2 separate regions of the Homo sapiens genome follow, and region 1 is linked to region 2. Evidence: fine-mapped expression QTL. A gene starts in region 2. The other region holds a variant in brackets. All regions are shown on one strand. Distances are between the middles of the regions. Region 1 overlaps ZNF793 (zinc finger protein 793). Region 2 holds the start of ZNF875 (zinc finger protein 875).

What was found. PIP is the estimated chance that this variant, and not a neighbour inherited with it, causes the effect.
Region 1: its variant is fine-mapped to the expression of ZNF875 in whole blood (INTERVAL, PIP above 0.99).

The regions. Positions count from the first base shown.
Region 1 is chr19:37,524,714-37,540,870 of GRCh38, forward strand. It overlaps ZNF793 (zinc finger protein 793), which reads left to right. Exons shown (of 8, transcript NM_001013659.3): 6 at 7,643-7,769; 7 at 8,595-8,690; 8 at 12,184-16,157. The coding sequence ends at 13,166. LOC124904708 reads right to left here. Exons shown (of 2, transcript XR_007067248.1): 2 at 8,138-9,415. Among named protein-coding and RNA genes, the nearest start is that of ZNF571-AS1, 16 kb to the right of the region's middle. RefSeq lists an enhancer at 5,261-6,083. The variant A/T (reference allele first, on the strand shown) is at 7,302.
Region 2 is chr19:37,327,382-37,343,538 of GRCh38, forward strand. ZNF875 (zinc finger protein 875) reads left to right here and starts at 7,268. Exons shown (of 5, transcript NM_001353803.2): 1 at 7,268-7,401; 2 at 7,788-7,876. The coding sequence starts at 7,844. RefSeq lists enhancers at 6,275-7,217, 7,013-7,122, 7,218-8,159, 7,333-7,432.

The DNA.
Region 1 (16,157 bases), 200 kb after region 2:
GGAGCCTGTGGGAAATATGGAACGGCAGGCTCCGCCCCTGGCCTGCTTCATGGGGTGATTTGTAGGTGTAGCCTGGGAATGTGTGTTTAAAAGGCTTTGGATGATCTTTACGCACATAAAAGTATGAAAAACATTGATAGTGATAGTAGACAAAGTTCTTAATAACTAATAAATCCGAAATAGGTTTTTTATATTGTTTCCCCTTGGAATAGAGTGTTAGACCCAAGGCAGAACTCCCAGTTTTTCAGGTGACCAAAACTGCCAAGTGCTAGCTCCCCAATGATACGACAATGTTTTCTATCTGTGTCAAAGCTGTAGGAAGTCCTAACTCTTCTGTTGCTTGCGATCCACATATATAATGGAAGGAAATGCTGCATGTCAGTGAGAAGAAAGTGAAAATACAAATGATTTCTTTCTGTTTTCTCTCTTTTTTTTTTTTTTGAGTTGGAGTCTTGCTCTCTGTCGCCCAGGCTGGAGTGCAGTGGTGCAATCTTGGCTCACTGCCAACTCCTCCTTCCGGGTTCACGCCATTCTCCTGCCTCAGCCTCCTGAGTAGCTGGGACTACAGGCGCCTGCCACCATGCCCGGCTAATTTTTTGTAGTTTTAGTAGAGACAGGGTTTCACCGTGTTAGCCAGGATGGTCTCGATCTCCTGACCTTGTGATCCTCCCGCCTCGGCCTCCCAAAGTGCTGGGATTACAGGCGTGAGCCACCGTGCCTGGCCTTTTTTTTTTTTTTTTTGAGACGGAGTCTCGCTCTGTCACTCAGGCTGGAGTGCAGTGGCACGATCTCGGCTCACTGCAAGCTCTGACTCCCTGGTTCAAGCGATTCTCCTGCCTTAGCCTCCTAAGTAGCTGGGACTACAGGCGCCCACCATCAAACCCAGCTAACTTTTGTATTTTTAGTAGAGACAGGGTTTCGATGGTCTCGATCTCCTGACCTCGTGATCCACCTGCCTCGGCCTCCCAAAGTGCTGGGATTACAGGCGTGAGCCACCGTGCCTGGCCAATAGGAATGATTTCTGTTTAAGGGGTCAGAGGGCTGCTTCAAGTGTACAGAAGCCCTGAATTTGATCCAAGGCAGCTGTAGCCTTGATCTGGACTGAGGAACAGATGTACTGCCCAGCATTTAAATGACTGTCATTCTTCTTATATGTGTGTTCTAGTTTGGTAGCAAACAGTTACACATCTTATTCCTGGGAATGTCTCAGTGTGAGGTGTTCCCAGCCCCCAAGGGCCCTGTGTCCTGAGAAGACTTCTCCTTTCCCTGAGTTTCTCATTCCTGCCTCCTCCTCCATCCCTTCTCAGTTTCCCATCACAGGAGATGGTGCCATCCCATCGGGCAGGCCGGGACCCTGAGATTTACCCTTGACTTCCTCCCTACTTTTCCCCCTCCTTCTACCCAGTCACCATGCCGTGCTAATTTTTAAAAGTTCAGTGATTCTTTTTATTTTTTTGAAACAGGGTCTTACTCACTGGAGCCTTGAACTCCTGGGCTCAAGCGATCCTCCCATTTCAGCCTCCCGAGTAGCTGGGACTATAGGCGCATGCCACTATGCCCAGCTAATTTTTTTATTTTTTGTAAAGATGGGATCTTACTATATTACCCAGGCTGGTCTTGAGCTTCTGGGCTCAAGTGGTCCTCCTGCCTCGGCCTCCCAAAGTGCTGGGATTACAGGCATGAGCTACCACACCTGGCCACAACTTCAGTGATTGCTGCCTCTTCATTCCTGTGTTCTGTGGAAATGGCATGGCTTCCTGGGTGCAGAATTGTATCTTTTCCTGGGAAATATTGACCCAGAGCCTGTCACTGTGCCCTGTGATCAGCCCTGACTGCTGCTCTTACTACCCTGGTGTGTTGTTCTGGCATCAGGGAGGGTGTTTGCTTGGCACCCCCTGTGCGCTGTGCCCTCTATGTGAGTCTTAGTGTGTCATGTGCCAGCCTCCATGGCCCCTGCCCTGCTTTTGGTCCTGCCTTTAGGCCCATTTGCCTGGGCTACTACTGCTCAGGTGCTGCTGGAAGCCCAGCATTCCTCATGGAGGTCTGCAGCCTCCTGAGAATGGGGCGTGGGCCTGGGCTGCTCTCAGAGCCACTTCGGTGCTTCTTTCCTTCGGCCACTCCTGGAGGTGGTAGGCCAGTGGCCCCAGCACTGCAATAGAGCTACCTACCCTACTTAAAGCCCACTGCACAGGCACTGAGTCCCCATTTTTTGTCCTTTAGAATTGTTTTCCTTTCTTTTTTTCTTTTCTTTTGAGATGTTGTCTCGCTCTGTCGCCCAGGCTGGAGTGCAGTGGCACAATCTCGGCTCACTGCAACCTCTGCCTCCCAGGTTCAAGCAATTCTCCTGCCTCAGCCTCCTGAGTAGCTGGAATTATAGGCATGCACCATCACGCCCGGCTAAGTTTTTGTCTTTTTGGTAGAGATGGGGTTTTGCCCTGTTGGCCAGGGTGGTCTTGAACTCCTGACCTCAGGTGATCCACCCGCCTATGTGCTACCACCCTGGCTAATTTTTGTATTTTTAGTAGAGATGGGGTTTCACCATATCGGCCAGGCTGGTCTTGAACTCCTGACCTCAGGTGATCCACCCTCCTCAGCCTCCCAAAGTGCTGAGATTACAGCCATTAAGCCACCGCTCCTGGCCAGAATTGTTTTCCCTTTCTTACAGATTTCAAAATATTGATTTATATGATTTTTCTTCTTAAATAAAATAGGCAAATTTATATAATGGTATTATGTGCCAGGCACTGTTCAAAGGCTTTACACCTTTTAACTAATTTAAACCTCATAGTAATTAAGACACACATACTATTATTATTTCCATTGAACAGATGAGGAAACTATGGCACAGAGAGGCTAAATAGTTTTCCCAGGGTAGGCTGAGCTGATATTTGAACTCAGGCAGTCCAGCCCCAATCCACTGCTTTGCATCTCATGTTATGTGGTCACATATAGTTAGGGAGCAGTCCACAAGACCCTCACTTCTACACCAACTGCAAGTTTGAGGGTCTCCCTCAAAACACTTTTGGGTTTTCTAATTTACTAGAAGGACTCATAGAACTCACTGAAAGCTGTTATACTCATTGTTACAATTACAGCAAAAGCATACAGATTAAAATCAACCAAGGCCCTGTGCAGTGGCTCACGCCTGTAATCCCAGCACTTTGAGAGGCCAAGGCAGGCGGATCGCTTGAGGTCAGGAGTTTGAGACCAGCCTGGACAACATGGTGAAACCCTGTCTCTACTGAAAAAAAAAAAAAATACAAAAATTAGCTGGGCGTGGTGGTGTGTGCCTGTAGTCCTAGCTACTCAGGAGGCTGAGGCAGGAGAATCGCTTGAGCCCAGGAGACGGAGGTTGCAGTGAGCCGAGACTGCGCCACTGCACTCCAGCCTGGGCAACACAGCAAGACTCCATCTCAAAATAAATTAATTAATTAATTAAGTAAAATCAACAAAGAGAAGAGGCTCATGAAGCAGAGTTTAGGAGAGTTCCACACATAGAACTTCTGTCCTCTCCTATGGAAGTCCCAAACAGTGCTAAATCCTCCCAGCAGTAATGTGTGCCAATACAGACGGAGCCTTGCCAACCAGGAAAGTGCACCTAGGCCCTGGTGTCCACTTTTTATTGGTGGTTGATCATGTAGAAAGGCTTGACTGTTCCCACCACTGACCTCAGTTTCCAGCCCTTCCAAGAGGTTGAGCTGATGCCTGTGACCCAAAGCCCTCATTATAAACCACATCATTAGACTATCTAGTGTGGCCCAAGACCACTAGGTAAACAAGGACACTCTTAGGACATTCCAAGAGTATAGAGATTACTTTCCAGGAGCTGAGGGCAAAGGCCACACCTCTCTTTTGGCAAGGTCAAATTCTTTACCACACAGTCACTTAAAGACAGGATCACCAGGACCTTCCTAGGCTGGTACCCATGGGTCTCCCTCAGTGACTGTCCTGCTCCTTCACAACTTATGCTGGCATCTCCAGGGCTATCAGCTCTTTAGAGAACTTTTGTTCTCTGTGCCCATAACCCGAGGCCTGCCAGGCGGTCAAGACTTCTTCTTTTCAGACTATTCCTCCTTTGGATCTCCTGCTGAACTCATCTTCTGCTGGCTTCTTAAATATTAGTGTCCCTTGGAGCTCTGGCCTGGGCACCCTGCTCTCCCCGTCTTGCAGAGGAATCTCACTTTTGTGCTGATGCTCAGCATTTTAGCTCCATTCCTGATCTTGCTCCTGACACAAAACCCACATGTCCACGTGGTCCCCAGGCAGGTCCAGCACAACAGCCTCCTCTTTGTTCCTCATGGTTTCCTCATCTCCAGGTGTGGCGCCATCATCACCCGGTTGCCTTCAAGATACCTGGGTGTTGCCCTGCCCCTACCCTCTTTCCCTCCCACAACCAGTTAAGGTGCAGGTTCTGCTCTTCTTTTTGTTTTGTTTTGTTGTTTTAATTTTTAAAAAATGTTTGTGGGTACTAGTAGGTGTGTGTATTTATGGGCATATGTTTTGGTACAGGCATCATGCAATGTGAAATTATCACACCATGCAGAATGGGGTCTGCTCTTCTTTACAGCGTTCCATCTTTCTCTAACGGTTACTGTCCTGCTTGTGAACATCACCTTTCACCCAGGTTACTATAGGGTCTTTCCTCTCACGTCCCTCCAGGTCACCCACCACACTTCTCTTTCCATCCATTGACTTTAAAACTGCCTGTGAGTTTACATTGAAAGTGCATCTCTTGTAGGCAGCATTTTTTTTTTTAATTCAGTCTGATGATCTCTGCCTTTTTGGAATGTTTAGTCTGAGACAGAGTCTCATTCTATCACCCAGGGTAGAGTACAGTGGCACTATCTGGGCTCACTGAAACCTCTGCCTCCCAGTTTCAAGCGATTCTCCTGCCTCAGCCTCCTGCGTAGCTGGGATTACAGGCACGCACAACCACACCTGGCTAATTTTTGTATTTTTAGTAGAGGTAGGATTTTGCCATGTTAGCCAGGCTGGTCTCGAACTCCTGACCTTAAGTGATCTGCCTGCCTCAGCCTCCTGAAGTGCTGGGATTACAGTGGTGAGCCACCATGCCTGGCCTGGAGTGTTCAGTTTATGAAGGGGTGGGTTGCCCCTCCACACCTGTGGGTGTTTTTCGTTAGGTGGAACGAGAGACTTAGGAAAGAAAAATACACAAAGTATAGAGAAAGAAATAATGGGGCCCAGGGTACCAGTGTTCAGCATACGGAGGATCCCGCCAGCCTCTGAGTTCCCTTAGTATTTATTGATCATTCTTGGGTGTTTCTCGGTGAGGGGGATGTGGCAGGGTCATAGGATAATAGTGGAGAGAAGGTCAGCAGATAAACACGTGAACAAAGGTCTCTGCATCATAGACAAGGTAAATAATTAAGTGCTGTGCTTTAGATATGCATACACATAAACATCTCAATGCCTTACAGAGCAGTATTGTTGCCCGCATGTCCCACCTCCAGCCCTAAGGCGGTTTCCCCCTATCTCAGTAGATGGAATATACAATCGGGTTTTATACCGAGACATTCCATTGCCCAGGGACGGGCAGGAGACAGATGCCTTCCTCTTGTCTCAACTGCAAAGAGGCATTCCTTCCTCTTATACTAATCCTCCTCAGCACAGACCCTTTATGGGTGTCGGGCTGGGGGATGGTCAGGTCTTTCCCTTCCCACGAGGCCGTATTTCAGACTATCACATGGGGAGAAACCTTGGACAATACCTGGCTTTCCTAGGCAGAGGTCCCTGCGGCCTTCTGTAGTGTGTTGTGTCTCTGGGTACTTGAGATTAGGGAGTGGTGATGACTCTTAAGGAGCATGCTGCCTTCAAGCATCTGTTTAACAAAGCACATCCTGCACAGCCCTTAATCCATTTAACCCTGAGTTGACCCAGCACATGTTTCAGAGAGCACGGGGTTGGGGGTGGGGTTATAGATTAACAGCATCTCAAGGCAGAAGAATTTTTCTTAGTACAGAACGAAATGGAGTCTCCTATGTCTACTTCTTTCTACGCAGACACAGTAACAATCTGATCTCTCTTTTCCCCACAATTTATATTAAATTACATTACATATAATCTTTATTAAATTACATTATTGGTATGGTTGGATTTGTATCTGTCATTTTAGTGTCTGTTTTCTGTTTATCCCGTCTACTCTTTTGTTCCTCTATTTCTTCTTTCCTCTCTTTTGTTGTGCTAGTGTGGATGAATGGAACATTTTTCAAAATTCTGTTTATTTAGATCAGGCACACCTCACATTATGATTTTAGTGGTTACTTCAGGGATACAATATATATCTTACTTTTCACAGTTTATTTAGAGTTATCATTATACCACTTCACATAGAATGCAAGAAGCTCACCTCATGCCTTCTAGAATATACTTTCTGCATACACTTCTTCTTGGATGGAGTTTCCATTGTCCTAAAGTCCATCATTTCTTTTTTTTGTTTGTTTTTTTTTGTTTGAGTCAGAGTCTCACCCTGTCCTCCAGGCTGGAGTGCAGTGGCACAATCTCAGCTCACTGCAACCTCTGCCTCCTGGGTTCTAGAGATTCTCCTGCCTCAGCCACCTGAGTAGCTAGGACTACAGGCGCCCGCCACCACGCCCAGCTAATTTTTCTATTTTTAGTAGAGACGGGGTTTCACCATGTTGGCCAGGCTGGTCTCGAATACCTGAGCTCAGGTGATCCACCCACCTCGGCCTCCCAAAGTGCTGGGATTACAGGGGTGAGCCACTGTGCCCGGCCCTAAAGTCCATCATTTCATTGCTGGCCGACCTCTGCATACTTTTCTCTTGTTACTAAGTAACTTGCCACCCCTAAAATCACCGTTTTGCCCCCCGGCCTTTGTTCCCACTGCTCCCCTGCATAGAATGCAGTTTTCCATCTTCCTGCGGAGGAGAGTCAGCTTTCCATATCCCTGGGCTCTGAAGCCTAACCAGAACCTGAAAAATTTAACAGACCATTCGCTTCTCTGTATGCCATAGCCTAGATGTCCTGCCATCACAGCTCTTGTGACATTTTTACCCTGATGGCTTTACATGTTGCTCTCTCTGTGCCAGACAGTGAGCTCCTTGAGGTCAGGACCCATCTATGACTGTGACCCCAGCAACACACAGTGGGTCTTCAATGTTTGTTGACTCAAAGTATGGATGGCAATGGTAGATAGCTTCCAATGTGATTTTCTTTTTCCCCACCATATATAACACAAAGCCAAGAATATAAAAGGCCTTCCAGATAGATAATAAGCTCTAACTTATAAACATTATAAAAATCAGCACCATCTCTTGCACAAA[A/T]TTTTTTTTTTTTTTTTTTGAGATGGACTCCTGCTCTAGCCCAGGCTGGAGTGTAGTGGTGCGATCTCGGCTCACTGCAACCTCCGTCTCTTAGATTCAAGTGATTCTCCCACCTCAGCCTCCCAAGTAGCTGAGATTACAAGTGTGCACCACCATGCCTGGTGAATTTTTGTATTTTTAGTATAGACGGGGTTTCACCATGTTTGCCAGGCTGATCTTGAACTCCTGATCCTCCCACCTTGGCCTCCCAAAGTGCTGGGATTATAGGCATGAGCCACCATGCCTGGCCCTGCACAAACATTTTTTTTCGACATGACTCAATGTCATTTTTGTTTCAACAGATACCTGTGTCATTCAAAGATGTGGTTGTGGGCTTCACCCAAGAGGAGTGGCACCGGCTGAGTCCTGCTCAGAGGGCCCTGTACCGGGATGTGATGCTGGAAACCTATAGCAACCTCGTCTCAGTGGGTAAGAACATCCTCACCATACAATGCAGATTATGTTCGAATGACCACCTTTCCTTTCTCAGTTGCTAAAAGCAACTGGAGTACTTTGGGAGGCCAAGGCAGGTGGATCACCTGAGGTCAGGAGTTTGAAACCTGCCTGGCCAGCATGGTGAAACCCTGAAACCCCATCTCTACTAAAAATACAAATATTATCCAGGTGTGGTGGCGGGCGCCTGTAATCCCAGCTACTCAGGAGGCTAAGGCAGGAGAATTGCTTGAACCCGGGAGGCAGAGGTTTCAGTGAGCCGATATTGCACCATTGCACTCTAGCCTGGGCAACAAGAGCGAAACTGTCTCAAAAAATAAAAAATAAAAAAAAAGCAACGGAAGTACTCTAGAACTTCTGAAATATTTATTTAATAATTATCTAGCACTTTCTATGTGCCAGAAATTGTTTTAGCCACTTTAAAAATATTAACTCATTTCATTCTCATAAAAGCCTTATGAGGTAGTTACTATTAGTACCACTTTTTTACACATTTGGAAATTGAGGTACAGAGAGGTGAAGTAACTTGCCCAGAGTCACCCAGCTAGTAGATAGCAGAGTCAGGATTTGAACCTCAGCATTCTGGCAGCACAGAATGCATTCTTACCTTGTGCTGCTGCCTCAGTGGGTGTGGCTTGAGTTTCCATGGTCCTGGATTACTAATCCCATTTGGTTCTGGACAAGGTGTGTGTTTAGTCCCCTCCCAAGTATAACATCTATTGTGCAGCCTTTAAAGCTGCCTGAGAGGCCCTGAAGACCAAGGAGCTCAGCCCAAGACCTGCATCAATTTCCCCGGAACAGGTTATGAAGGCACCAAACCAGATGTGATCCTCAGACTGGAGCAGGAAGAAGCACCATGGATTGGTGAGGCAGCATGCCCGGGCTGCCACTGTTGGGGTAAGTGTGATAAATCTAGCAAAAGGGGTACTGAAGGAGGCTGGCACCTTTGGAATTTTGTTCAGCATTCTTCTCTTAAAAGCCTTGAAAGTCCTCCGAGAGCTTCAGCCACGTTAATGACTCTTCAACCTCCATGCAACCCCACCGCCCATATCTGAGTGTTTTTCTCGGCTCTACTTGATTGCACCTCTGCCCTTATGTGCTTGGTCCATCTCTCTTTCTCCAGAATCTTTCCCATGCAGGTATTCTTACAAATAAAAGCTTCTATGATTCTCCTGTTCCTGCTTCCTATTCTCTGTTGTGACAAACTTTCCAGATAAAATGCTTCAGAGCTACCTGCTTTCCCTAATTTCTGCACTCAAATTTAAATCACTCCCATAGACAGATGACTGTGGGATCAGAGAAGAGGAAGCAGTGAATTCCATGTTGGGGTGGGGAGGTGTGAAGGAAATGGCTGAGCTGGGCCCATCTTAACCACTGCTGATTAACCCTCAGACTCACTGCCCCTCTCCCTTCAGCTCTGTAAGACATTCCAGCAATATCCATTGTACCCTGAGGGCTGATGGATGGCCCACTCTTAGGGATGCCTCTGAACTTCTGCTTCTGGCGCTCTCTGGAGTGTGTTCCTCCATTAAACTGTGCTCTTCAGCTGTCCTGAGACTGTGGTATCCCGGTTATCAGTTGCCCTCCTCTTCTTTTCTTCTCCTCTTCTGAAAATTTCGTAACTGCAAATTCCACAAGAATGTATCTAGTCAGCCTCCCGTTTTTCCAGCTACTCTGTTACTATCTATTTCCCTGGCTCAAACCCAGCATTTTCCTTCCAAGGAACAATTGCATTTTCTGTTTTCCATAACTTGGTTCTCTTTCCAGTGGTGTAATCCTCTCAAAGAACTCACCCATTCTGAGAGTACATGATTCTCACAACCAGCCCTTTTGCCATGTTGGGCCCTTTTTTCCCCCTTGCACTGCCCACCCCCGCATTTAACCAGTCTGTGGATTACACTACAGGTGTGCACTTACCCTGTTCTTTGTGTGTCAAAAACTAAAATCATCTTTATTTGTCCTTGCTACCCCTGCCACACACACACTCACACTCACACACACACACACACACGCACACACACACACCACTTCATCTTGCTTATTATTCCAGGGCTTTGCTACCGTGTGGTCATTTTGAATCTTCTGCCTTTACCACTCACTCTAACTGTTCCATTCATATGTGTGGTTTTGTTGATTTTTTTTCTTCTGAGAAATGGCTTTAAATCTTCCTCTCTGCTTTTTTTTTTTCTTTTTGAGACAGTGTCTCACTCTGTCACCCAGGCTGGAGTGCAGTGGCATGATCATGGCTCACTGCAGCCTTGACCTCCTGGGCTCAAGCGATCCTCCCACCTCTTAACCTCCCGAGTAACTGGGATTATATTCACGTGCTACCACACCTGGCTAATTTTCATTTTTTTTGTAGAGAAGGGGTTTTGCAGTGCCGCTCAGGCTGGTCTCAAACTCCTGGGCTCAAGCAGTCCACCTGCTTTGGCTTCCCAAAGTGCTGGATTTACTGGCATGAGCCACCATGCCCAGTCCTTCTCCACTTTTTTTTGTTGTTATTGTTCAGATGAAGTCTTGTTCTGTCACCCAGGCTGGAATGCAGTGGTGCCATCTCAGCTCACTGCAACCTCCGCCTCCTGGGTTTAAGCAATTCTCTGCCTCAGCCTCCGGAGTAGCTGGGATTACAGGCACGTGCCACCACCCCCAGCTAATTTTTGTATTTTTAGTAGAGATGGGGTTTCACCATCTTGGCCAGGCTGGTCTTGATCTCCTGACCTCGTGATCCACCCGCCTTAGCCTCCCAAAGTGCTGGGATTACTGGCGTGAGCCACTGCACCCAGCCCCACTTTTAATTTTCCACTGATATCTCCTAAAATGAGACCCAGATTATCTCATGACTGAATGTCTTTAAGTGAGGGGTTATTAATTATTTTTGTGCCATGGACTTCTTAGGCATTCTTTTGAAGGCTATAGACCTCACTTCTATGTATAAAAATATAATAACGTTCATAAGATTATAAAATAAATGACTAAAGTACAGTAATTATCAAAATAAGCTAGAAAATAGTTATCAAAAAAAAATTTTTTTTTTTTTAGATGGAGTTTCACTCTGTCGCCCAGGCCGGAGTGCAATGGCATGATCTCAGCTCACTGCAGCCTCCTCCTCCTGGGTTCAAGCGATTCTCCTGCCTCAGCCTCCCGAGTAGCTGGGACTACAGGTGTGTGCCACCACGCCCAGCTTATTTTCTATTTTTAGTAGAGACTGGGTTTCATCATGTTGGTCAGGCTAGTCTTGAACTCCTGACGTCAGATGATCCACCTGCCTCGGCCTCCCAAAATGCTGGGATTACAGGCGTGAGCCACCGCGCCCAGCTTCAAAATATTTTCAAAATGTGCAATATAATAGTAGATGTACTTTTTCATTTATACGTTAATGAGGCCTAGCATCAGGTCTAATAACTGTCATGATCTCAAAGAAGAGATGATTATAAACATAATAATGTGACATGAAAATAACAATATTCACAAACTAGTATCAAGTCACAGGAACCACTAATACCACTGTGTTTTGTTGCTTATATTCATATTCAAAGGAAATGTTCAATTGTAGTTGGAACTCAGTGAAAACAAAAATGTAATTTCTTTTCTATCAAAGTTCACAAGCCCCCTGTTTTCTGCCAAGTTAAGAACTCTTGCTTAAGTCCTAGTTAGCTTTGTTGATTTTATTTTTTAATCTGTTTCACCTTAGAGTGCTTTACCGTTTATATTGTAACTAACTAGCCCAACATGATATTCCCTTGGATGACTGCTATACCAGTGCTTGTTAAGCTCCAAGGTGTTTGGAATCACCGGGGCATCTTGTTGAAATGCAGAGTCTGATTAAGTAGGTCTGGGGCGGTGCCTTAGATTCTGCACATCTAACAAGCTCCAAGTAAGGCCAAAATTGCCACTTGAAGACCCACATGCTGGATAGCAAGGTACTGTATAACATTTAACCTTCTTTCTTCTGTAACAGGGATCAGCAAACTGTGGCCTACCGATTGGCCACCTGCTTTGTGAATAAAGTTTTATTAGAACACAACCACATTCTTACGTTTACATGTTGTCTATATTTTCATGGTATGGCGGGAGAGTTGAGTCATTGTGACGGAGACCATATGGCCCACAAAGCCTTTACTTTCTGACTCCTTAAGAATAAGTTTGCCAACCTCTGCTCTGTAATATCCTATTTTCTTTGAAATTATTGGTCTCTATACTCTATGATATATTGAATTCCATTTGTGCCAGTGTTCAGAATCCTCTTTACTCATAGAACACTCTTCCCTGCGTTTGTGCTTTGGGTTATGGTTCATGTTCTCTATTTGTGTGCTGTGCACTCTTTAAATTTTGAGAGCATTTCTTAAGTAGTATGAAGTTTCATAAGGATGATTCACTGTACTTTCTCCAGAAGACATCTGGCGAGTTAATATCCAGAGGAAAAGACGGCAAGACATGCTTTTGAGGCCAGGCGCAGCCATAAGCAAGAAAACATTGCCCAAGGAGAAAAGCTGTGAATATAATAAGTTTGGGAAAATATCACTTCTGAGCACTGATCTTTTTTCTTCAATCCAGAGCCCTAGTAACTGGAACCCTTGTGGAAAGAATTTGAACCATAATTTAGACTTGATTGGTTTTAAGAGAAACTGTGCAAAAAAGCAAGATGAGTGTTATGCTTATGGGAAATTGCTTCAGCGTATAAATCATGGTAGACGACCTAATGGAGAAAAGCCCCGGGGTTGCAGTCACTGTGAGAAAGCTTTCACCCAGAACCCGGCACTTATGTATAAACCAGCAGTAAGTGATTCTCTCTTGTACAAACGGAAGAGGGTTCCACCTACAGAAAAACCCCACGTCTGTAGTGAGTGTGGGAAAGCCTTCTGCTACAAGTCTGAATTCATTAGGCATCAGAGAAGTCACACTGGGGAGAAGCCTTATGGCTGCACTGACTGTGGGAAAGCCTTTTCACATAAGTCAACCCTCATCAAACACCAGAGAATTCACACTGGGGTAAGACCCTTTGAATGTTTTTTTTGTGGGAAAGCCTTTACCCAGAAGTCACACCGCACAGAACATCAGAGAACACACACAGGAGAGAGACCCTTTGTCTGCAGTGAATGCGGGAAATCGTTTGGTGAGAAGTCATACCTCAATGTACATCGAAAAATGCACACAGGAGAAAGACCGTATCGTTGCAGAGAATGTGGAAAATCCTTCAGCCAGAAGTCATGCCTCAATAAACATTGGAGAACTCACACAGGAGAGAAGCCCTATGGGTGCAATGAATGTGGGAAAGCTTTCTACCAGAAGCCAAACCTCAGCAGACATCAGAAAATTCATGCTCGGAAGAATGCCTACAGGAATGAAAACTTAATAATTGTGGGAAATACTTGAGCAAAATATCTGGTTTCATGGTATGTAGGGAATTTTTTTTTTTTTTTTTTGAGTTGGAATCTCACTTTGTCACCCAGGCTGGAGTGCAGTGGCGCGATCTCGGCTTACTGCAAGCTCTGCCTCCCGGGTTCACGCCATTCTCCTGCCTCAGCCTCCCGAGTAGCTGGGACTACAGGTGCCCACCACCATGCCCGGCTAATTTTTTTTTTGTATTTTTAGTAGAGACGGGGTTTCACCGTGTTAGCCAGGATGGTCTCGATCTCCTGACCTTGTGATCTGCCCGCCTTGTCCTCCCAAAGTGCTGGGATTACAGGCGTGAGCCACCGCGCCTGGCCGGTATGTAGGGAATTTATCCTTAGGAGAAATCTTATCATTTTAATGAATTTGAACAGTGTGTTTTTATTTTATTTATTTATTTATTTTGAGTTGTATTCTCTGTTTCCCAGGCTGGAGTGCAATGGCACTATCTCGGCTCACTGTAACCTCAGCCTCCCAGGTTCAAGCAGTTCTCCTGCCTCAGCCTCCCAAGTAGCTGGGATTACAGGCACCTGCCACCACGCCTGGCTAATTTTTGTATTTTTAGTAGAGATGGGGTTTCACCATGTTGGTCAGGCTGGTCTCTTTGGCTAGGCTGGTCTCGAACTCCTGACCTCGTGATACCCCCCAACCCCCCGCCCTTGGCCTCCCAAAGTGTTGGGATTACAGGCATGAGCCAACGCGCCCAACCGACAGTGTTGTATCATAATGGAAATCATGATCTAATTGTGATACAAACTTTTCTAGAAAATACTTTCTCAAACATAAGCATGGACACCCTGGCATGTAAACGTTTAAAAATGTATTAAATGGAATAACAGCAGAATACAAAATATCTGTGAAGAGACTTAAAGGCATACTCTGGTATATTCCACAGTGAGCCATACAATCAGCATTATTTGTATTTTGGAGTTGTAAATGTGAAATTAACATAAAATGTGAATATCAGACACATGTCACACAACATATAGAATGCCATTCAGAAAACTTTTCCACTTTAAATATCATCATTGTCTTTTGATGTCTTAACAATACAAAAAAATAACAACAACATGGCCCACTATTGTTAAAAGAACTTTATTATACCAGCTACATTTTTCCACCTTTTTGTAATACATGTAAATGGCTATAGAGGTTGTTACTGTCCTCTGCAGAAATAATAAAGCAGTGTTTTTAAATGTATTTGGATAATTTGGCCAAAAATTTTACTAAAATGTAGTTATTTATATTAAAAATGCAAGCTAAGGAATAGTTTAAGAACCTGATACTGGGTAAATGAAACACTGTAAACTATTTGACAAAATGTAGTGTCACCCTGGTGTACAGTACACTGTTCATATTTTCTTAGTCTTGCTTAAAATATCTTGTAGCAAATTAGTAGCATTGCTACACTATTCTAGATACACTATTCTATATACAGGTTGTATAACTCAGAAATGTTTCATGCGTAGACCACTGAAGGAGAATTTCTTTTCTCTCTATCCCTCTGCAAATTAATTCAAGAATATTCATTTTTTTCATATAAATTTCCTTGCAAGTGTCCTAGACACTAAATCCCAAGGTTTTAATTATTTCAATGTTTGGAAAGAAGTCTGCTTCCCTGAGTTGCTATGTCATCCATATTAGAAAATAAATGGCCATGTGGAATCTACATTTTTCAAGATTTCCCTCCATGTAAGACTGCCTGATCCAGAATGAGAAAGGAGACATAACCACAGATATCAATATGATTTTTTAAGTGATAAAAAGATACCTCATACAACTCTAATCAACATATTTTTTAAAAAGAGGAGGTGGATGCTTTTCTAATAAACTTAAGTTATGAAAACTGCAATAAGAAGTAGAAAACTTGGTAGGATAGTTAACATTGAAAAACTCAAAAAAGCTATTAAAGATCTATAATGGGAAAATGCTCCAGGCTCAGAAGAGTTCATGCTTAGTTCTATCTTTTAAAGAAAGAGTAATACCAGTGTTATTTATTATATGGATGTAATACAATCCATGAACTGTACTCATTTATTTTATTAAGTCAGAATAAATTTTAACACCAAAATCAAATACAGATAGTTGAAAAAAGAAAACTTCTGCTGGGTGCGGTGGCTCACGCCTGTAATCCCAACACTTTGGGAGGCCGAGGCAGGTGGATCATGAGGTCAGAAGTTCGAGATGGTGAAACCCCATCTCTACTAAAAATACAAAAATTAGCCGGGTGTGGTGGCACACACCTGTAGTCCCAGCTACTTGGGAGGTTGAGGCATGAGGCAGGAGAATTGCTTGTACCCAGGAGGTAGAGGTTGCGGTGAGCCAAGATCGTGCCATCCAGCCTGGGTGACAAGAGCGAAACTCCGTCAAAAAAAAAAAAAAAAAAAGAAAACTTCAGACCAGTCTTACTCATGAATATAGAAACAAAAATTATAGTTAAAATACTAGCAAATAGAATTCAGCCATATACCCAAAGAGTGACATAGTAAGAGTCATCCCAAGAATGCCAAACCAGTTCAGTTAATAGGAAATGCATCAATCAAATTAACAGTTTAAAGGAGAAGAATCATATGAACTCTCAACAGATACTGAGAAGGCATTTCATAGAATGTGTTAATTTACATTGTAATAGATGGGAACCACTTAAAGCGGTTTTTCTTAAAAAAAATTTTTTTTAACCCAAACCCCAAAGCATATATTATGCCAAAGCCATTTTTTAAAATCAGGAATTCAATATTGGCTTAGAGATTCCAGTGAAGGCAATAAAAAGAAATGAATTGGTATAAACAGCAGAAAAGGTAAAACTATCCATTTTTACTGATGATATGGTTGTACACCAATAAATGAAAAGACTATTTTTTGAGTTAACTTTTCTAAGAAGACAGGGTACCAAAATCAAGAGCTGTTCTCCATACTGACAAGAAAACATAATTTATATGTACTTCTTTTGGAATTACACTAAATCTCAATGAT
Region 2 (16,157 bases):
TCTCACTGTGTGTTGCTTTGCATCATTGAACATTTTTGGTAATTATTTTTATTTTCTATATATTTTAGAGATTTCATTAAACTAATACGGAATTTCATATTCAGGGGCAGGCATAGTGGCTCATACCTGTTTTCCCAGCACTTTGGGAGGCCGAGGCGGGCAGATCACCTGAGGTCAGGGGTTTGAGACCATCCTGGCCAACATGGCAAAACCCCGTCTCTACTAAAAATACAAAATTATTCGTGTAGTGGTGCAGGCCTGTAATCCCAGCTACTTGGGAGGCTGAGGCAGGAGAATCGCTTGAACCCGGAGGCAGAGGTTGCAGTGAGCCGTGATCTTGCCACTTCACTCCAGCCTGGCCCACAGAGCAAAACTCCTCAAAAAAAAAAAAAAAAAATCATACTCGCTCGTATCAAAAATGAAAATTTATTTTTACAAATTTCTATGTGAGTGATAGAATTATTTTAATGTCAGAAAGGTTCATAAGAAATGGGTGTAGTGATTGTGTTCTTTCCTGTGCTCGAATGGAAAATGATGAGGGAACACAATGTTAGAGTTGCAGTGAGAAGGGGCGGAAAGACCAGGTGCGGTGGCTCATGCCTGTAATCTCAGCACTTTGGGAGGCCAAGGCGGGCGGATCACCTGAGGTCAGGAGTTCAAGACCAGCCTGACCAACACGGAGAAACCCCATCTTTACTAAAAATACAAATTAGCTGGGTGTGGTGGTGCATGCGTGTAACCCCAGCTATTTGGGAGACTGAGACAGGAGAATCACTTGAACTGGGAGGTGGAGCCTGCAGTAAGCCAAGATCGCACCATTGCACTCCAGCCTGGTTAACAAAAGCAAAACTCTGTCTCAAAAAAAGAAAAAAAGAGAAAGGGTGGAAAAGAGGGATTCCAGAGTGCCAGGCACACAGATTTTCTGGAAGGTTTACATGAGGACTGCTGTGGTTTGAATGTGTTCCCCAAAGTTCATGTGTTGGAAACTCAACCCCTAATGCAACAGTGTTGATCAGTGGAACCTTTAAGAGGTGATTAGGTCATGAAGGCTCTGCCCTCATGAATGGATGAAGGTAGGGTGGGTTAGTTATCTTGGGAGGGGGTTCCTGATAAAAGGATGAGGTTGGCTTCCTCCCTTTCTGTCTTTCCCCTTCTCCCTCTCACATGTGGTCACTCTCTTGCCCTTTTACCTTCCAGCATAGGACAACACAGCGAGACCTTCACCAGATGCAGGCCCCTCACTTTCCCAGTGTTCAGAACCATAAACCAAGTGAACCCTTATAAATCACCCAGTCTGTGGTATTCTGTTATAGCAACACAAACAGACTAAGACAGGGACACTCAGTGAGCTCTTCTCTCTACTTGATGGAGCACTCCCTGCGTGGTGCCTTGTATTTGTAGACATGATGCTGTAAATGCTCTTTGAGTGTCTCGAAGGCTTTTATGTTTGAGGAGTTTACAGAGAAGCCCGTACAGGGTTCAGGTCCATTCTGTTGCTTCTTTGCTCCTTAGTTCCTCCCCTAATCTGATGTTAAATTAGATCATAGTGTGGTCCTTGGACCAATAGTATCAGTAGCACCTGAAAATCATGCTGGAAATACAGATTCACAGGCTGCTCCCCAGAATACTGAAGAAGAAACTCTAGGAGTGAGACCCAACAATCTGTGTTTAACAAGTCCCCAGGTGAGTCTGATGCACAAAGAAACGTGAGCTGCTGTATTAGATGGTGTTGAGTTCATGCCACCGAATCACTGACACACACATCTGCTCACTGCTTGCTCTTCGCACAGGCCCCTGGATCCTCCTGGAATCCCTGATCCCTGTTGCTCCCTTGCGGAGTTTTCTAGTCCCTCTTATTTGAAGCATGTCTTTCAGAGCCTCGCACCACCCAGCTTGGGTATCTGGTGAATTCTGTGGTCTGCATGTCCATGTTTTTGACATTCTGGGAAGGGTGGCCCAGGCTGTGATTTGCCATCTACTGCTGCAGGCTATGGATGGTATTCAGAAGGGAGGGGAGATGCTGTGTGCGTGTTCTGAAGGGTTTCCCACTAAATGGAGAGACTGACTCTCTCCATAAGTATTTGATTTTTACTTTATCTCCTCGTTGACTTCACAGTGTAAGTGCAGTTTGTCTCTACTGGGTGATGCATGCAGATAAATGTTTATGTGAACATAAGAAGTCTGCATGTGTGGGTGAACTCTCCACATCATGTCATTTATTGTCCATCATTACGTATCTGTGGTGTCTAGCACATTCCTCTACCTTATTTTCTGTCATTGTACCTACTTCTACCTGAACACGTATTAAATATCTTATTAAAAATACACAAATATTATGTTTCCTCAGTGGTTTTTTCCCCCTCACATTGGGCCCTCCTCTTCAGTGGACTACAGTGTGGTACCTGCAGGTCTCAGGCCTTCTGGGAGGTTCCAGCTTTTCCTGGATGCTCTCTCTCTCTGGCCAGCTCAGGCTGGAGCAGTGGGTGTTGGTGCCATCCTGTGGCTATAGGTGATAAACCAGGTTGTGTTTTGACCCCTAGTCTTGAATCCTGGAGTTCTCACATGCGTGGATTTAAATGCTGTGTCTTTCTAAGGGCAGATTGTGCCCATTTTCCTTCTCTGCCTCTCAAGGGACTGTTTGCTGTGTTTATTGACTTACCATTAAAAAAAATCATATACATTGATGAATTAGATTGTACTCCATAAATTATATATGTTTGAAAAATAAAGAATATTTTTTCAATTTTTTTCTGATTTTTACCTATCTTTTAAATTGTATATATTTATGGGGTACAAAATGATGTTATGATTTTTCCATACAGTGTGGAATGTTTAAGTCAAATTATCCTATCCATTACCTCAAATACTTGACTTTTTTTGGTGATGAGAATGGTGTTTATCACTTTCACTCATCAGCTCCTGATGTCTTCCATGCTAGGGACAGGAAAGGCTCAACACTTGACTTTCCCTCCTGTTTTCTTAGCCACTGTCAACCCTTGAATGTACCCTCCAGGGTTGCCTGTCACCTTTTACACCTAGCCTGATCCTTGTGCACCCACTTTCCTCTCAGGGACTGTCCTTAGGGAGTGACTTTATGCACAGACTTAATGTGCTCTTCCTGCCTCCTTCATCCCCATAAGCCCCCATCTCAGCCCCATCTGATTATTTCCTCCCTCTCTCATTTCCTGTTATTCTGTTGGTTTTCTAACCTGAAGGGTAACTGCTTACTCCTTAGTTTTCTGCCTTAATTTCTAAGTCATAGGCTACTTTCAGGCTAAAAGTTTTCCTCCAGCCATGGTTTTAGTCTCATTCTGTAAGTCTTGGTTTTTAGTTTTATTCATTTAAAATTAATCTTTAATAACTTTTTTGACTCATTGGTGACAGAGTAATTCCCTCTCTTCCCACCACACCACCCTCTGTCCCCAAGATTCTGGAAGTTTGTTCTTCCCCTTTTGTGATCATTGTTACTTAAAACTTTGAGTTTTTCAAATTAGAAGTTTCTTCTATAAATGTATATAGAGCTTGGCTGGGCGTGGTGGCTCACGCCTGTAATCCCAGCGTTTGGGAGGCTGAGGCGGGTGGATCACGAGGTCAGGAGATCGAGACCATCCTGGCTAACATGGTGAAACCCGATCTCTACTAAAAATACAAAAAAATTAGCCAGGCGAGGTGGCAGGCGCCTGTAGTCCCAGCTACTCGGGAGGCTGAGACAGGAGAATGGCGTGAACCTGGGAGGCGGAGCTTGCAGTGAGCCGAGATGGCACCACTGCACTCCAGCCTGGGCGACAGAGTGAGACTCTGTCTCAAAAAAAAAAAAAAAAAAAAGTGTATAGAGCTAATAACTCCTTGCTTTTTTTTTTTTTTTTTTTGAGAGTCTCGCTCTTGTTGCCAAGGCTGGAGTGCAATGGCACAATCTTGGCTCACTGCAACTTCTGCCTCCTGGGTTCAAGTGATTCTCCTGCCTCACCCTCCCAAGTAGCTGGATTACAGGCAGTGGCCACCACGCCCATGTGGGGAAAAGCAAGAGAGATCAGATTGTTACTGTGTCTGTGTAGAAAGAAGTAGACATAGGAGACTCCATTTTGTTATGTACTAAGAAAAATTCTTCTGCCTTGAGATTCTGTTAATCTATAACCTTACCCCCAACCCCGTGCTCTCTGAAACATGTGCTGTGTCAACTCAGAGTTAAATGGATTAAGGGCGGTGCAAGATGTGCTTTGTTAAACAGATGCTTGAAGGCAGCATGCTCCTTAAGAGTCATCACCACTCCCTAATCTCAAGTACCCAGGGACACAAAAACTGCAGAAGGCCGCAGGGACCTCTGCCTAGGAAAGCCAGGTATTGTCCAAGGTTTCTCCCCATGTGATAGTCTGAAAGATGGCCTCGTGGGAAGGGAAAGACCTGACCGTCCCCCAGCCCGACACCCCCAGCCCGACACCCGTAAAGGGTCTGTGCTGAGGAGGATTAGTAAAAGAGGAAGGAATGCCTCTTGCAGTTGAGACAAGAGGAAGGCATCTGTCTCCTGCCCGTCCCTGGGCAATGGAATGTCTCGGTATAAAACCCGATTGTATGCTCCATCTACTGAGATAGGGAAAAACCGCCTTAGGGCTGGAGGTGGGACCTGCGGGCAGCAATACTGCTTTGTAAAGCATTGAGATGTTTATGTGTATGCATATCTAAAAGCACAGCACTTAATCCTTTACATTGTCTATGATGCAAAGACCTTTGTTCACGTGTTTGTCTGCTGACCCTCTCCCCACAATTGTCTTGTGACCCTGACACATCCGCCTCTTCGAGAAACACCCACAGATGATCAATAAATACTAAGGGAACTCAGAGGCTGGCGGGATCCTCCATATGCTGAACGCTGGTTCCCCGGGTCCCCTTATTTCTTTCTCTATACTTTGTCTCTGTGTCTTTTTCTTTTCCAAATCTCTCGTCCCACCTTACGAGAAACACCCACAGGTGTGTAGGGGCAACCCACCCCTACACGCCCAGCTAATTTTTGTATTTTTAATAGAGATGGGGTTTCGCAATGTTGGCCAGGCTGGTCTCGAACTCCCGACCTCAGGTGATCTGCCCACCTTGGCCTCCCAAAGTGCTGGGATTACAGGCGTGAGCCACCATGCCTGGCCAACTTCTTGCTCTTTTTGCCACTACTTTTAAGCTGATATATTTGGAACTGAGGTAGCCTCATTCTACAGGTTTAGATCTGAAGTATTTTAACTATTGCTTCTTCCAGTGTATTTTCTGGTTTGCAGGCCAGTTTCTTCTTTAACTCATCAGTGACACAGTGGTTTGTATGGCTTTTAATTTCAAAGAATATTTTTTCAATTTGCTTTTTTGTTTTTTGCTGATTTTTATCTATGCTAATTTTAACTAGACATGTTCCCTTGATGGGCATGACTAGATTTTTTCTTCCCCACTGCGTTTATAATTTAGATGGATTTTCACATCTCAAGCCAGTTAAGAGTGTGGAAAATAGGACTCCTTAAAGCACAGATAATGACAAGTGGTTCAGATTTACAAGGGTAACTCAGGTGAGAGTGTATCATTGTACTTGGCACACAGCACTGAGTAACTATCACCTTTCATTTAAATGAATGCAGCTGTAAATGCTTTCCTAGATGTCTTGTTGATGTTTGTTAATTTCTGTAGAGTTTCATTCTGCCCCTTTCACTGTTTATCACTTGATCCTTATCACTTGAGAGTCCCCTTATTACTTGACCTGCTGTTACATTATGTTTGATTTATTACAAATACCCCATCAGCCTGGGTCTCTCTTTACTCCCTTTGTACACCTACATCTAAACATAGTGATTTGGATTATCTCAGGATCCCACATCCTCACTGTACCCCCACCCCCACCCCTACCATATCTTTCTTAAGTTTTCTAGTCCCTGCTTTTCATTTGTGCTTCTTAAATCCCAGCCCCATGCCTGACTGTGGTTCCCACTGAGTTCTGTGACAAGCATTCTACATTTATAGATATTAAATCTTTGGCCGGGTCATTTACCTGGGCTGGAATAGGGCTCTCGGCTGATCCTCCTTCCTAAACACCCTCTCAATGGGAGAGGCTGATACCCAACATGCAAACCTTGTTTTTTACTTCTCCAGGCAAAGGGATGTTGGAAGACATTCTGGAGGGGGTAGGGTGTGAAGATTTACAAATAATCTTTGAATATCTGCTTCATGATAGGTCTTGGAGGTGCCTTGTGGGTGTGGCTTTGGAGGGATGGTTACGAGGAAATTGTGGATATTAAGGAAGTCAGGAAAGGAAAAGATGACTCACTGACAATTCAACAATTGTCCTAAGGGACTTTCTGGCTGCTTGATGCCCTAGAAGCCAGGCCCTCACTTCTGTAAATGCTGGGGACTGTGGATACAGAATTTAAAGGGTCACCAAAAAAACTCAGTAATCAAGATAAACAATATTTTAATGTAATATCTTTAAAAATAAAATCAATGCAAAAAGAAAACACCCCTGTTGAACAAAACGGTCAGACTTATGCCTCCTTTCCAACACCGCCCCACCTCCACCCCACCCTCCGGAAGTTTCCTCCAAGCCGCACCTGTACCCCAGCCTCCAATAAAAACCTCGGGAATTTCCTGATCAAGCTTCGGATCCCCACCACCACCAGGGGATCTTTTGCTGTTCACCCCAAGTTCAGTCTGCATCCCCTAAAATCCTAGGGACACGCGACCAGTCTCCCCCATCTGCATTCCGGGAGTTTGCCCCAAACCAATCCTGCTCTCCGCGAAAATAGCCTTGGGGTTCCCTGTCCTGGTACACCCTCCTACTCTAGGGGACAAAGGGCCGGTGTCGCCTCCAAACTGGTGGTTCCCGCAGAGCATCGTCTCTCCCTGAGCCGCGTCTGTCCCGACCTGGCACCTGCTCAGGGAAGGGCGCATCAGGGCGGAGACTTGCGTAGTGAGCTCAGCTCACCCGCACCTTGAAGGTCAGCGCACACTGGCCACCCGCAGAGCACCGGGACCACATTTTGCAGAATCCTTCGGCAGTCCCGCGATGCCTTCGCGGTCAGCAGATCTCATTGGTTTACAGAGAAACTTGTCAACGTCACTTGGGCATCTTAAGAGTGGGTTCGTAAACTTGGTTGTGTGCGCTGTGCAGATGTCAGTCACCCTGTGTGGTGGGCAAAGCCGACTTCTCCGCCTCTGTAGCTCCGAAACTACAATCCCCAGAGGCCTCTGCGGTCACTTCCGCTCCCCTCCCTACCCTTCAGTGTGTAGCGTTGACGTCAGAAACACTTCCGGTCGGTGGCCCAGGCGCGTTAAGCTGGTTGGGACCCGGGAAGGCCTCCCTCTTAAGGTCTTTCCCACACCTCTGCACCTTGTTACCTGACTTTCGGCTTCAGGATCCGCAGCGTGCACCCGCGTTCCGTGAGTGCCCTATAGGCAGTCAGCATGCCCCTCTGCGTGTCCCTGTGTTACGGGGACGCCGGCTGGGAGCCGCAGAGCTATCTCAGAACTAGGGCGCTCTCCTTTGGGCACCTCCAGGCCATTTTCCTTTCATTCGAGCCCACAGGGTTAGAGATAAACCCTCACTCCGTTGCTTGGGGACAAGGGCTTCACTCCCTGTCCCGAGCTTGCGGCTGAGCTTGAGGGTGGCTGGGTCATCCTGGCCCCCCACTGGATGGGAATTGGCTGCTCTGGTGATTTCTGTGACATCCCAGACCCCAACTGTGGGGCTCTGGAGCGGACTGCGCTTCACTTCGTGGGGAGGGTGTTTCCACCTAGGCCACTCTTATTTCTCTTCACATCCCCAGATCTGTCTTCTGAGACTTTGCCCTTCTCCAGGAAGAGCACTCAGGAGACCAGGAAAATGGCCACAGGGCTCCTGAGAGCCAAAAAAGAGGTGAGAATTAACTGTAATTCTATCTTGGCTGTCAACAGAATGGGTCCCATTACCTTTTCTTGTCCTGGAGGCTGCCTTGTTGGTATTGGGCAAAGTCATTCCTAGCCCTAGTCATTCCTAGTCCATAGAACAAGGAGGATTTTGATATAGTCTTGTAGAGCGTCCGATTCTGTCGCTGTTCAGGGCGCCACTTGTAACCTGCACGGACCTGGTGGACTGAACAAAAGGAATAAAAGACAAGAAACAAAAAAGTATATTTGGAAGAAGGGGTCGGGGGCACTTTGTCTCTAGTGGACAAGGGCCCTGAGCTTTACACAACCCTCCCGTATTTATTGGTAAAACAGATAACAAGTTAGGGGGTGGTGATTGTCAGGTAATTGTCAGTTGGCCGTTTGGTTCGCAATTGCAAGACTGCATCCTTCCAACAATAGGCGCTAGATTTCCTGGTAGATCACTTCAAGGAGCCAGGCGCCAGGCAGTGATGGCTCTCAGCACATCTTTTGGTGGCAGTGTGCGTTTGCTCACATCCTGCATTCATGATAAACAGTTTACCGTTTAATCATATAACCTCCAGTGGAATGCTGAGTTGGTCACAATCCCTTTGGTCTTTTCGGCTCCAAACATAGTCTGACCTGAATTTTACCTTTGAGTTCATTCCTAGTCCTGGAAGAGTGCCTCGTTCTAACAGGAGTCTTCCCTCAGCATTCCTTTCTGCTCCATCCTTACCGCAGTCACTCATGAAGTAGTTAATTGTGAACAACACATATGGAGCAGTTTAAATAAAAGTAAAGAGACATACATGCGTAATTGTTCAGTGATGTGGATGAAGGGCAGGGACAGCACAGATGCCTGTGATTTCAAATGGTTAGGGAGGCCTCCTAGAAGTAGGGCTGTCTCAATTGCCCCTGACTGGTTTGTTAAGTTGGAGATTGGGGGGAAGGCATTCCAGTGGGAGGCGGCAAGGAAGCATAGATAGTTTCAGAGGCTGGACTCTCAGTGTGGAAGGATTATGGTGGCCAGTGGACTTGCTTAAGATTGAATTTTTTTTTTTTTTTTTTTTGAGACCGAGTCTCACTCTGTCATCCAGGCTGGAGTGCAGTGGCGCCATCTCGGCTCGCTGCAGACTCTGCCTCCCAGGTTCACACCATTCTTCTGCCTCAGCCTCCTGAGTAGCTGGGACTACAGGCGCTTGCCACCATGCCAGGCTAATTTTTTGTATTTTTAGTAGAGACGGGGTTTCACCGTGTCAGCCAGGATGGTCTCGATCTCCTGACCTCATGATCCACCCACCTCGGCCTCCCAAAGTGCTGGGATTACAAGTGAGATTACACCACACCCGGCTACCTATGCATATTTAAAAATCAACCTTGGCCAGGCGTGGTGGCTCAGGCCTGTAATCCCAGCACTGTGGGAGGCTGAGGCAGGCGAATCACGAGGTCAGGAGATGGAGACCATCCTGGCTGACACGGTGAAACCCTGTCTCTACTAAAAATACAAGAAATTAGCTGGGCATGGTGGCAAGCGCCTGTAGTCCCAGCTACTCGGGAGGCTGAGGCAGGAGAATCGCTTGAACCTGGGAAGCGGGGGTTGCAGTGAGCTGAGATCGCACCACTGCACTCCAGCCCGGGCAACAGAGTGAGACTCCATCTCAAAATAAATAAATAAATAAATATACATATGTTAAGATACAGACTATCTATTCACACATAGAACAAGGAGAATTTCGATATAGTCTGACCTGAATTTTACATTTGAGAGCACTTTCAGCTTCTGGCAATTGGGACATTTCCAAAATTCCAGATTCCCTGCTTCTCTGAAAATAAATCTGCCCTAAATCTGCACTGTTCTTTGGTGTCAGACAATTTGAGCTGAACAACGTCTTTATCATTTGGACGTGACCTTCAGAGTATCAGCTGCACTTTCTGCAGTGTCCTTTATACTGAGGTTGAAACCATTGACTACCTAACATTTCACCCCCCTCTCATTTTTATTACCTACCTGACCCCTGAAGGGTTTGCCTTTTCCACCTCTCGGTCAGGGTGGGGACAAATCAGAAAATGCTGAGTGCCAGGCTGAGCAGGGTAGACTTTGTCTTTGAGTAAGCTGAGTTTTGAAGGATGTTAAGAAGGGACTTGACATAAGGAAGTCAATGGTATGTGGGAAATAGTGATTGACTGTGTATAAGGACTTAAGGGGAAGCGTTCTTCTTTTTTTTGAAACGGATTCTCGGTCTGTCTTCCGGGCTGGTGCGATCTCAGCTCACTGCACCCTCTGCCTCCCAGGTTCAAACGATTCTCCTGTCCCAGCCTCCCGAGTAGCTGGGATTACAGGTGGCGCCACCAGGCCCAGCTAATCTTTTGTATCTTTAGTAGAGACGGGATTTCACCATGTTTGCCAGGCTGGTCTTGAACTCCTGACCTGGTGGTCCGCCTGCCTCGGCCTCCTAAAGTGCTGGGATTACAGGTGTGAGCCACAGCCCCCGGCCGAGGGGAAGCTTTTCTAAGCCCTGAGATTGGTGACGATGATGCCCCTGACTTAATTGAATGCAATTAACATTCATTAAGCACCAACACAGTTGCCAGGCTGTTTAACAGTCATTTTTGATATGGGTTAACTTGGTTATTTCAGATTTGCCTTGACTATCCTTATCAAGAAATCTGAGTGGAATTTAGACAGGAAAAGAGATTTCTTAATTCTGGACTCCAGTGGTGGGGATTATGCATTCCTGGATGTTATCAGAGCAACACTGAGAATTCTGTTTCTCATTTCTAAAATAGTTAATTCATTTGAGAGTGTTAATACCAGGAATACATAAGAAATCCAATTCAGGACATTTCCCAAGGTAACATTGAATATTTTTTGTGCGTACTTTCTCTTTTCTTTGAGGCGGAGTCATGCTCTGTCACCCAGGCTGCAGTGCAGTGGCACGATCTTGGCTTACTGCAGTCTCCGCCTCCTGGGTTCAAGCGATTCTCCTGCCTCAGCCTCCCGAGTAGCTGGGATTACAGGTGCATGCCACCACGCCCGGCTAATTTTTATGTTTTTAGTAGAGATGGGGTTTCGCCATGTTGGCCAGGCTGGTTTCAAACTCCTGACCTCAGGTGTTCCACCCACCTCTGCCTCCCAAAGTGCTGGGATTACAGGTGTGAGCCACTGCACCCAGCCTTTTTGTGTGTACTTTCTTCACCACTCCCAGTGTTACCAGGGAAGCATTCTTTCTGATTGGCTGGGAAAAGTCAGAAGTTTGTGGTAGCTGACTTTTCCTGTGCCACCTCCTTCATTCTCAGTAGGTCTACCCGGAACTGCCTCCTGTATATAAACAACTTGTTCTTCAATGTAGCTTTTTAACATAGTATTTACTCAGGAAAAATTAAAGGGCATGAGCATTTAAATAGTTGTTTAAGATGAAACCTCTGTGTCTCTCATGCCTAGCACACATGAAATGTTTGGTGCATGAAGGAATCACAACCTTAAGTAAACGATTTGAAGGAACTAAGTAACAAAGGAGTTTCTGTTGTTTGCTTTGGTTTGTTATTTTGGGCATGTGGTTAATCACATGTTTCAGGAGCGTTGGGTAGAATTTCCAGATACTCTTGATATGCATGGCATCTGAATTATACAAAATAATCAAAGCAAGACTATCTTAGGACATTAGGTATTACTGCCAAGGACCTTTGCCTGAGAGGATAAATTAAAATTTGTGTTAAATTTGTAACAATGAGATGAACTGGCAGGCACATTATGTTATTTTTTTTCTTAGCATTTTTCCTTTTCCTTGGTGCCATACAACAAACTTGAGTGTCTGCTATGTGCAGAACACTCAGTAGATTACAGTTAATGATGGGTAAAACACAGTCTGCACACTCAGGAGTCTTCCATTTTATTTTAGGATTCCTTTCTCATTTGGATTTAATTTAATTTTATATGCGCTCACACCCCTGCAAACATATTTTGACAGGCCCTAATGGTAAAATCATAATGGAGTAAAGTTACTGGCAGTGTATCTACCCAGCTCTATTTTTAAAGGTGTAGAAACAGCCAACACTTATCCCACTGAAAATAATTTCCATAGTAATCCATTGAATGGATGAACTCATCCATTGTTTCCCAATTTTTGGACTCCTGTTTCCAATGTTTAACTGTTGCAAATAATACTTCTATGATCAGCTTTGTACATGAAATTCTTATATAGGTTTTTATTCTCATACAAAATATGACAAGGTGAATAGACATGACTGTTTTGAAGCATTGGGCACCCACAGCAGTTGGAGATTTGAACCCTGCCAGTTTTTTTTTTTTTTTTTTTTGAGACAGAGTCTCGCTCTGTCACTCTGTCCCACTGCATCAGGCTGGGATGCAGTGGTGCAATCGATCTCGCCTCACTGCAACCTCTGCCTCCCAGGTTCGAGCAATTCTCTTGCCTCAGCCTCTTGAGTAGCTGGGATTACAGGTGCCCGCCACCACACCAGGCTAATTTTTGTATTTTTAGTAGAGACAGGGTTTCACCATATTGGCCAGGCTGGTCTCAAACTCCTGACCTCAAGTGACCCACCTGCCTTGGCCTCCCAAAGTGCTGGAATTACAGGCATGAGCACCGCGGCTGGCCCTGAACCCTGCCAGTTCTAAAGAATTTGAACTTCCAATTACTTCTTTCTTTTCTGAGACTCCCTTCTTCACCATGTGTTTCTTTATACTGTGCAATTTTTATTTTATTTTATTCATTTATTATTATTATTATTTTTGAGATGGAGTTTCATTCTTGTTGCCCAGGCTGGAGTGCAATGGCATGATCTCAGCTCACTGCAACCTCCGCCTCCCAGGTTCAAGTGATTCTCCTGCCTCAGCCTCCCAAGTAGCTGGAATTACAGGCATGTGCCACCGTGCCCAGTTCATTTTGTATTTTTAGTAGAGATGGGGTTTCACCATGTTGGTCAGATTGGTCTTGAACTCCTGACCTCTGGTGAACTACCCGCCTCGGCCTCCCAAAGTGCTGGGATTACAGGTGTGAGCCACCACGCCCAGCCCTACTGTACAACTTTTATTTGCTTTTATTTTAATTATTACACTGTGCAGATTTTGATTACCGGGGTAGACCTGCCAACTTAGGTCTCTTTCTTCTCTCACATGAAAGCTCACATAGTATCCTGATTTGTTTCCAAATGTTGACATGGTCCTTTGCCACCCACTACATGTTTCTGTAATCCTCGTTTTCCCCAACATTGCAGTAACATCACTTTTCAGAAACCTTTAGTGCCTCATTTCAGTGTCTTAGATATTTAGGACAGTCTTCATTTCAAATATTGTATCCTGTTGTCTGATGTCATGTTCTGATTATTCAGTCTGAAAGTGTGTTTATTGTTACCACAGGGGAGTCATCTTATGTGTACTTTTTTTTTTTTTTTTTTTTTTGAGACGGAGTCTGGCCCTGTCGCCCAGGCTGGAGTGCAGTGTCACGATCTCAGCTCACTGCAAGCTCCGCCTCCTGGGTTCACGCCATTCTCCTGCCTCAGCCTCCCGAGTAGCTGGGACTACAGGTGCCGACCACCACGCCCGGCTAATTTTTTGTATTGTTAGTAGAGACGGGGTGTCACCTTGTCAGCCAGGATGGTCTCGATCTCCTGACCTCATGATCTATCCACCTCGGCCTCCCAAAGTCCTGGGATTACAGGCGTGAGCCACCGCGTCTGGCCTTGTGTACTTTTAACTTAGATACATTTACTTTTTATCCACTCAGCTGAAAAAAGAGGAGAAAAATAAAAGTAGGTCAGGTCAATCTGTTTCCTTTCCCATTTAATGAATTCATGCCCAGGAGTGAGTGAGAAATGGGAGGACTGAATCTGCTGTTCTCCAAGACTAGCTTAGGAGTTTCTGACATCATGGGCATCCCAGCAAGCCAACGGTCACATTAGTCACCACGTATTTTTCATATCACGTGATCCCTCTATCAGTGTATCAGCCTTTGCTGTATAATGAACAATCCTAAACATCAATGGCTTAAAACAAAATCACTTATTAGCACATAATTTGGTAGGTTCATATTTTGGGCTGGCCGCAGGTAGGTTTTGCAGATTTCACCTGGTCTTGTCATTTTGCTGCAGTCGGCTGGCATTTTGACCAGGGCTGGAGGACTATCCATGTGTGACAGGAAGCTGGTTGGCTGGGGTGCCTAGTTTCTTCTTGGTTCTCTTCCATGTGGGCTTGGGCTTGGTCAAATGGTCTTGGGTTTCTCTATGCAGGAAGAGAGGACAGCCCCAATTAACAAGTAGTTTTAACGTTTTGGCTTTTGTCATGTTCACTGATGTCCTTTTGGCCAAAGGAAGTCACATGGCCAAGTCCAGAGTCGTCATAGAACGGGATAACATAAGGGAGTAGATACAGGGAGACATGATTTATTGGTCCCAATGATTCATACCCTTACCATGTGCAAGATTAACTCACCCCCCTCCCAAGATCCCCAAAAGTTTCATCTTGATTCAAAAGTCCAGTATCTTATGTGTAACAGTCTGGATGTAGCTAAAGCTTCTTCACTGGATCCTTTTTGAGTCAGATACCTGTATACTAAAAAGGCAAGTCATTTGTTTCCCTCCACCCCAAACATTCCCTACCTAACATACAGTGGTGAGAGAGAGATACTGCAGTAGATGCTCCCATTCAGAAAGGACAGGAATTAAGCATAGAGGAGGCCTCTCCATTTTGAACTGTTTCAGATCCTTTGGACTTCCTTGAAAGCTCTATGGGTTTCCCATGTACCAGATTTGGGACTGCTCTATTAAACAAAAGCTGAAATCACAGTCAGACAGGCCTCACATCTTTGGCAAGGTGTCGGTGCTATGGGACAATGCCCATAAGAATCTCAGAAGCCTTTTTGTCCAGCGTGGAGACTCCACTAGGCATCCCCTTAACACTTCAGAGGTTCTAAAGTTTGGGTCTTTTAGCCAAACTTTTGATTCGAACTTTACTCTGAGTTTATTTTTTTATTTTGAGACATGTGCTGGCTGGAGAGACTGAAGATGTAAAATAATTTTATTTCCAAGCTAGCAAGTCCTGACTTGTCTATATTTCCTCTGAATTACGCTTGCAAGCTGTATAATTGCTTCTTCAGCTCTTCTGTTTCTGGACATTATTATATGTCACTAGAAACATCCAACTGAATTTTTTTTTTTTTTTTTTTTGAGATGAAGTTTCACTCTTGTTGCCCAGGCTGGAGTGCAATGGAGCGATATCGGCTCACTGCAACCTCCACCTCCCAGGTTCAAGCAATTCTCCTGCCTCAGCCTCCCGAGTAGCTGGGATTACAGGCATGCGCCACCACACCTGGGTAATTTTGTATTTTTAGTAGAGACGGGGTTTCTCCATGTTGGTCAGGCTGGTCTCAAACTCCCAACCTTGGGTGATGCGCCTGCCTCGGCCTCCCAAAGTGTTGGGATTACAAATGTGAGCCACCACGCCTGGCCCAAGTGAAACTTTTAACAGGCTTTTTGGAGATCTCTTTAGCTAGATCCAAAAATTCATCAGGTATATTTTCTGTTTTCCAAGTTCATGCAGGCAATAGCTTTGCTAATATATAATACTAGTTGCCTTGTTCAAGCTGCCATATCAGTTTCATCACTCCTTTCCCAGTCCCCACTAGCAGTTTGTTTACTGGTTTTCCAGCCTGTGCTAATAGTTTTCCTGGATGCTTTCCAAGCCTCTGCCCATGTCCTGCTCCCAAAGCTAATGCCACATGTTTTAGGTATTTTGTTATGGCAGCACTTCACTTCTGTGTACCAACTTAGTGGCCTAAAGAACATAGCGGCTTAGGCCTGGTACAGTGGCTCTCACCTGTAATCCCAACACTTTGGGAGGCCGAGGCGGGCGGATCATGAGGTCAGGAGTTCGAGACCAGCCTGGCCAACATAGTGAAACCCCGTCTCTACTAAAAATACAAAAATTAGCCGGGTGTGGTGGTACACACCTGTAGTCCCAGCTACTTGGGAGGCTGAGGCGGGAGCAGGAGAATCGCTTGAACCCAGGAGGCAGAGGTTGCAGTGAGCCGAGACCACGTCATTGCACTCCAGCCTAGGTGTCAGAGTGAGACTATCTCCAAAAAATAAAGAATAAATAAAATAAAACCAAAAAAAAAAAAAAACCAAACAAACTTAGCAGCTTAAAATGAAATCATTTTTTCAAAATCCTGTGGGTCAGCAAGTAGGCCCGGCATGGCTGAGCTGATCCTCTTGGCATCCTCATGTGGCTGTAGTTAGCTGGCTGCTCAGCTACAGCTGGATGGTCTCAACCTGTC